Linked DNA regions of Homo sapiens: region 2 is linked to region 1. Evidence: fine-mapped expression QTL. A gene starts in region 1. The other region holds a variant in brackets. All regions are shown on one strand. Distances are from middle to middle. Region 1 holds the start of SPMIP3 (sperm microtubule inner protein 3). Region 2 overlaps LOC105373262 (a long non-coding RNA gene).

The links. PIP is the estimated chance that this variant, and not a neighbour inherited with it, causes the effect.
Region 2: its variant is fine-mapped to the expression of SPMIP3 in monocytes after R848 (Quach 2016, PIP 0.95). The same link has a PIP of 0.9 or more in monocytes after Pam3CSK4.

What each region holds. Positions count from the first base shown.
Region 1 is chr1:244,351,207-244,353,967 of GRCh38, forward strand. It overlaps SPMIP3 (sperm microtubule inner protein 3), which reads left to right and starts at 1,429. Exons shown (of 5, transcript NM_001012970.3): 1 at 1,429-1,528.
Region 2 is chr1:244,311,424-244,314,367 of GRCh38, forward strand. All of the region lies in intron 1 of LOC105373262 (a long non-coding RNA gene), which reads right to left. Among named protein-coding and RNA genes, the nearest start is that of SPMIP3, 40 kb to the right of the region's middle. The variant TATATACAC/T (reference allele first, on the strand shown) is at 1,596.

The DNA of each region.
Region 1 (2,761 bases):
ATTTTTTTTCCTCAGTGAAGAATACTGGTTATTACTCTTAAAACGCCTTTGACGTCAAATAGCTGGATTCAAATCATAGATTCATTACGGCCTCGTTGTGTGACTGTTAGGCAAGTTCCGTAGCTTCTTCTCTTAGCCTTCATTTCAAATAGAAATACTTCATTTTCAAAAGAGAATCTCCTTCCATGGTGGTGGTGGAGATTCTAGATGGTGTGTGTCTAATAGCTAAAAAAACGTGTGGTGCTCACTCAACAAATCAAACCAATTTATCCTTTCTCTTAGTGTGGTTCCAGTTTGTTGCTTCTGTCCTCATATATTTATTTAAGTTTTCCCTAGCTTATCTGCTTTCAACAAAATGCTGTCACCAAGACTCTGTCATTACATTATTTTATGCCTGTTCCATGTAGGTTAAGCTCCCAGCAGGAACCCAGCCTGGCCCCTGGTCTCTCCTGAGTGCCTTCTGGAATCTTATGGAAATATTTTACATTCTAACCTGCAAACTGTATATAAGTGAGAAGTGTCCCTGTTTCCAGGACAACCTACTGTAGATAATGCCAGTGTTGGCTGGGTGTGGTGGCTCACGCCTGTAATCCCAGCACTTTGGGAGGCCGAGGCGGGAGGATCATGAGGTCAGGAGATCGAGACCATCCTGGCCGTGGTGAAACCCCGTCTCTACTAATATACAGAAACTTAGCCGGGCGTGGTGGCACGCGCCTGTAGTCCCAGCTACTCAGGAGGCTGAGGCAGGGGAATCGCTTGAATCCGGGAGGCAGAGCTTGCAGTGAGCCGAGATTGTGGCACTGTACTCCAGCCTGGGCAACAGAGACTCCATCACAAAAAAAAAAAAAGAAAAAAAAATGCCAGTGTTTCGTTTTGGTTTGGTTTGGTTTTGACAGAGGTTGGTCAGAATAAATATTTTTGCCACTCTCTTCTTCTCAGGTTATGGCTTGCTTCTATATAGTGGTGCTGTTGTGATACTCCATGGATTGGTTTGCAGCATATTTTTAAATAATTAAAATTATCCTTTGATACCTGCAAAGGAGCAGGTTGGAGCCTGACCTAACCTTGGACAAGGCGGGGCTGGCCTCATCTGCCCCTCGTGCCAAACCATCCTTCCTCAATTCCAGCTTGCAAAGGGCAGGACTCCTCAGTGTGGCACCACCCAGATTTTCACCTTACGTTGTCCTTGGGACAATCTTTACAGGAAAGCAAGCTCTAGTGATTAGATAGCCTGGTTATTTGCCTACATGATTTTCCTTTTCACAGTAATTTTTGCCCCTTCTTTCATGTGCAGCTGGTCTCTCCCTAGAGACCAAAGGAGCACTCTTTTTCTAAGCCCAGGACCTGAAAGGCATTGCCTGGCAAAACCTTGCAAGCCAGTGTGCGTCACAATACCCTTTGAATGATGTAAAGGAATCAGGCCCTGCCACTCTGCAGTTGATCCAGCAGCAGGAGGCAGCTGTACCCATCACTGTCCTCAGAGTACTTTTAAGAACAAGGAGGTCTCTGCCCACGGCAGCCCAAGCAGGTAATAGCGGTTGGTTGTTACTGCCTGTACCTCTCTCTCGCCTCATTTAGAGGTTGCATTACTAAATGGTTGACTGCATTTCAAATATTTTAGAGACAGGAACTCACAACATAAAGAAACTTCATGGCAAGCCTTTTGGTAAAGCAAAAATGTCTTTTGGAAAGTGAATACTCATCTCTCTCAACTTTGAATTCTTGTCATAGTTTTAACTCAACGTGTCTTTTTTTTCTTAGAAACGGGTACACCTATATTAAATAAGATAATTGGTTCTCTGTGATACAAGAAGACCTAGGTTTTAAAAACTGTGAACTAGATTAACAGGTTACTGAGTTAGCTGATCGATTGATTTATTCACTCATTCTGAAGTATGCATCAAGCACTCCTTGGACAGCGAACACTTTGCAAGAGAATGAGTTAGGAGAAGGACAAAGAGAGTGAAGATCGTGGCCACCAAACGAAGTGGTCCCCAACATCTAGGAGCTCACATTTTACCTGAAGAGACAAAGTGCTGTATAAAACAGATGTCTTGGCCAAGCGTGGCGGCTCACACCTATAATCCCAACACTCTGGGAGGCCGAGGTGGGAGAATCACTTGAGCCCAGGAGTTTGAGACCAGCCCGGGCAACGTAGCAAGGTCCTGTCTCTGTTTAAGAAAACAAACAACAACAACAACAACAAAAAACCCAGATGTCTCGTTGTTTGAAGAATTTCTAGAACCTTATCCAAAGCCTGGTGGAGAGTTGTCACTAATTTTTCTTAAATAATAAAATGAATAAATCAATTCAGAAACCAATAAACCAAAAAGGAAAGGACTCAGAACCAAAATGCGTAGGAGAATCTCCCAGGGGCTCTGGGAATTCACAGGAGGGAAATGGGCCATTTGAAACTCAGAAGAGAGGCCTCCTAGGGAACGTATGTAGGACCTGAACAAAGCCCTGAAGAATGGGCTTAATTTAGGCTAGAGAAGGAAAAAAGAAAGAGTATTCAGGCAGCAGAATTCATTACAGAACTGGTGAGAGTCAGGGGAGAAGGGAACCAACCTTCCTGAACTGGGAAAACTGCCTGCCTGAGAAAACAGAAGCAACAGGGGACTATCAAAGTAACTCATTGCTGCGAGCCCTCTTCTAAACAGCCTCTCATCGCACAGGCTCAGAGGCAGCTAGTACAGTCACCATGCTCCTAGCCAGGGTGAGTCATGTCAATCCCAAAGCACTTCCCCACCCACGCCTTCTC
Region 2 (2,944 bases), 40 kb before region 1:
TTTTTGTAGAAACAGGGGCTCACTGTATTGCCCAGGCGGATCTCAAACTAGTGGGCTCAAGCAATCCTCCTGCCTCAGCCTCACAAGGTGCTGGGATTACAGGCATGAGCCACCACGTTCAGCTTTCTTTCCTTTTTATTCCTATCAAATAAAGTAAAATGCAATTCCTTTTTGCCTATTACATATATTTCTAATCTCAATCTAAAATCTGTCTCCTCATTTTTCAAGCTTTTAATTTAGCTAATAAAAGCTTTTACCTTTTATTTCTTCCACTTTAAATCTAAAGCATTTCAACTTATATCTTTCATTACCTTTCAGATTTAGTAGGTTATTTATTTTATTTTTTAGATTTAGCCCACCACTGGCCACTGCTCCTGGGAGGTGGCGTGTGAGTGAGTGAGTGCAGGAACTAGAGCGAATGAACTCTGGAGCCAGCTGGTCGCTCCTCTCCGGCAGGAGCAGGCTCTGTGCAGGCCCCGCAGCAGCATCCAAGCATGTTACAACCAATTGCCCTTTCAGCTCTGCCGTCTGAGGACAGCCAAGTGCCAGTCAGCTCAGTGGAGGGTCAGGGTGGCAGCCCCTCCCCTCTTGGCACCTGGGTTCTTGTCTGGTGTCCAGGAAGAATCAGGTCACATGAAGTGTTTGAAAGGTGATGAATGCGGAAGACTTTATTGAGCAGTGGGTGGCTCTGGGCAGAAAGGGAGGCTGGAAAGGGCATGCGAAGGTGATCTTTTCCTGAAGCTCTGCCGTCTTTGGCTGGGCCCCTCTCTGAAGCCACGCTGTCTGAAGTTGGCCACATCTATCTGTAGTCTCTGGTGCTCAGTTGCTTCTCTGCTCACCGCTCAGCTGCTTGGATCCACAACACTCAGCTGCTTGGATCCGCGACACTCAGCCACTTGTGTTGTTCTGCCAGCTGAAGTCTTTTATGGGCACAGGATAGGGGCGGGGGAGGCCCAAAAAGCCACATTTGGGCAGAAAAATGGGATCAGCTGTTTTCACTTAGGGCCACGGTTCCAGGCTTAAGGCTGGGGTTTAGCCAGGAGCCCAGCCCTTCTGTATCACTGGAACTGGAGGCGTACGTCACCATAGCCGGCTAATGTTGGTATTTTTTGTAGAAACAGGTTTTCACCATGTTGTTCAAGCTGGTCTCGAACTCCTGGGCTCAAGCAGTCCACCTGCCTCAGCCTCCCAAAGTGCTGGGATTACAGGCATGAGCCACTTCATCTGGCCTGTTTTTTCTTACATTTACCTTTAACCCGTAATCTTTCCTCAAGCTCCCACAGTCCCTTTATTAGCATGCCCTAATTTCCTTTCCCTTTCCTTCCTCCTCTCATACAGTGATTGGCTTTGACAATGTCTGTAAAGGAGGGTGGTCTCAGGGGCGTTAGGAGTTCGGAGCTGATGACATGGAAGAGGTTTTCTCCTCTGACTGTCTCCAAACCTGCCAGCCTGGCTCGCACGATGGCCCCAGAGCATCTTGGAGGATGCCTCAGAACCTTCGGCCTGCATTTGAAGGCTTCATCTATTCCAGGGCCATAATTCTCTCTGAACTATTTATATATATATATATATATATATATATATATATATATATA[TATATACAC/T]ACACACACACATATATATAGATATAGATAGATATATAGATATATAGACATATAGATATAGTTGTTTTTTTTGTTGTTTTTTTGTTGTTTTTTTTTTTGAGACAGAGTTTTGTTCTTATTGCCCAGGCTGGAGTGCAATGGCACAATTTCAGCTCACCGCAAGCTCCGCCTCCCAGGTTCAAGTGATTCTTCTGCCTCAGCCTCCCGAGTAGCTGGGATTACAGGTGTGCACCACCACGCCCGGCTATTTTTGTATTTTTAGTAGAGACGGGGTTTCACCATATTGGGTTAGGCTGGTCTCGAACTCCTCACCTCAACTGATCCACCCGCCTCAGTCTCCCAAAGTGCTGGGATTACAGGCGTGAGTCACCGTGCCCAGCCTATTGTTTATGTCTTACATAATCCAGTCCCTTGTGTTTTAAAATCCGTGGTGTTCAATATCTAACTCTATGTTGTTCAACAATCCACACCGATGACATAGCATGTACATCATGAGCCAGAGAATGTGGTCCAGGAGCTTACAGCACAGCAGCTTGGCCTGGCGGCAGGTGGCCCGGGGCCCTGAAGCTTGGAGAGGGTCTCTGTAGGTGCACTACGGGAGGCTTGTTTTCCTATCTGTATCTCAACTGCTTATTTCCAAGTTGCAACACTCCCCTTCCTGGCGGGCTATGAAAGGACTTTGGGTGTGTGGCTCTCCCAGGCTCCCTTCCCTCCTTATGACAGTGCTGGAAAAACTGGCCAGTATGGCTATTATTCTGGATGATTTTTTTAAATGACAATAATTGATGCTGATGGGGGAGTTTCAAAGACTCTCCCCTTTTCTTCTTAATTGCAATAGCTCTTACCACAAAGGCCAAGGAATCAACGTAGATTGATTCTACATTAATTGCATATTCAGGTTCTGGGGCAATGCCCACCAGACGGGTCAGTAGACCCAGTGGAATCAATGTGAGCCAGACATGGGCCAGAATTCCATTTACTGTCTGAACCCCACATGCCTCCATTCTAACAGGGGTGTATCATGGCTCTGAGGATAAGCAATGTCGTTATCTGAGAAAATAACCATAAGGATCAATGGGGAAAGCCTGGGGCAAACATTACTACTTACAGCCCTGAGGCTGCCGGGCTTTTCCTAGTGAGGACCCAGCCTCTTCTTCGGTCATTGGATTCTGGGCTTGAAAAATATCTCAGGCCCCAAAAAAAGAACAAGGGATTGTAACTTTTTAATTATTTTTTACAATTTTTTTAGAGATAGAGTCTTGCTTTGTCACCCAGGCTGAAGTGCTGTGGTACAACCATAGCTCACTGCAGCCTCGAATTTCTGGGCTCAAGTGATCCTCT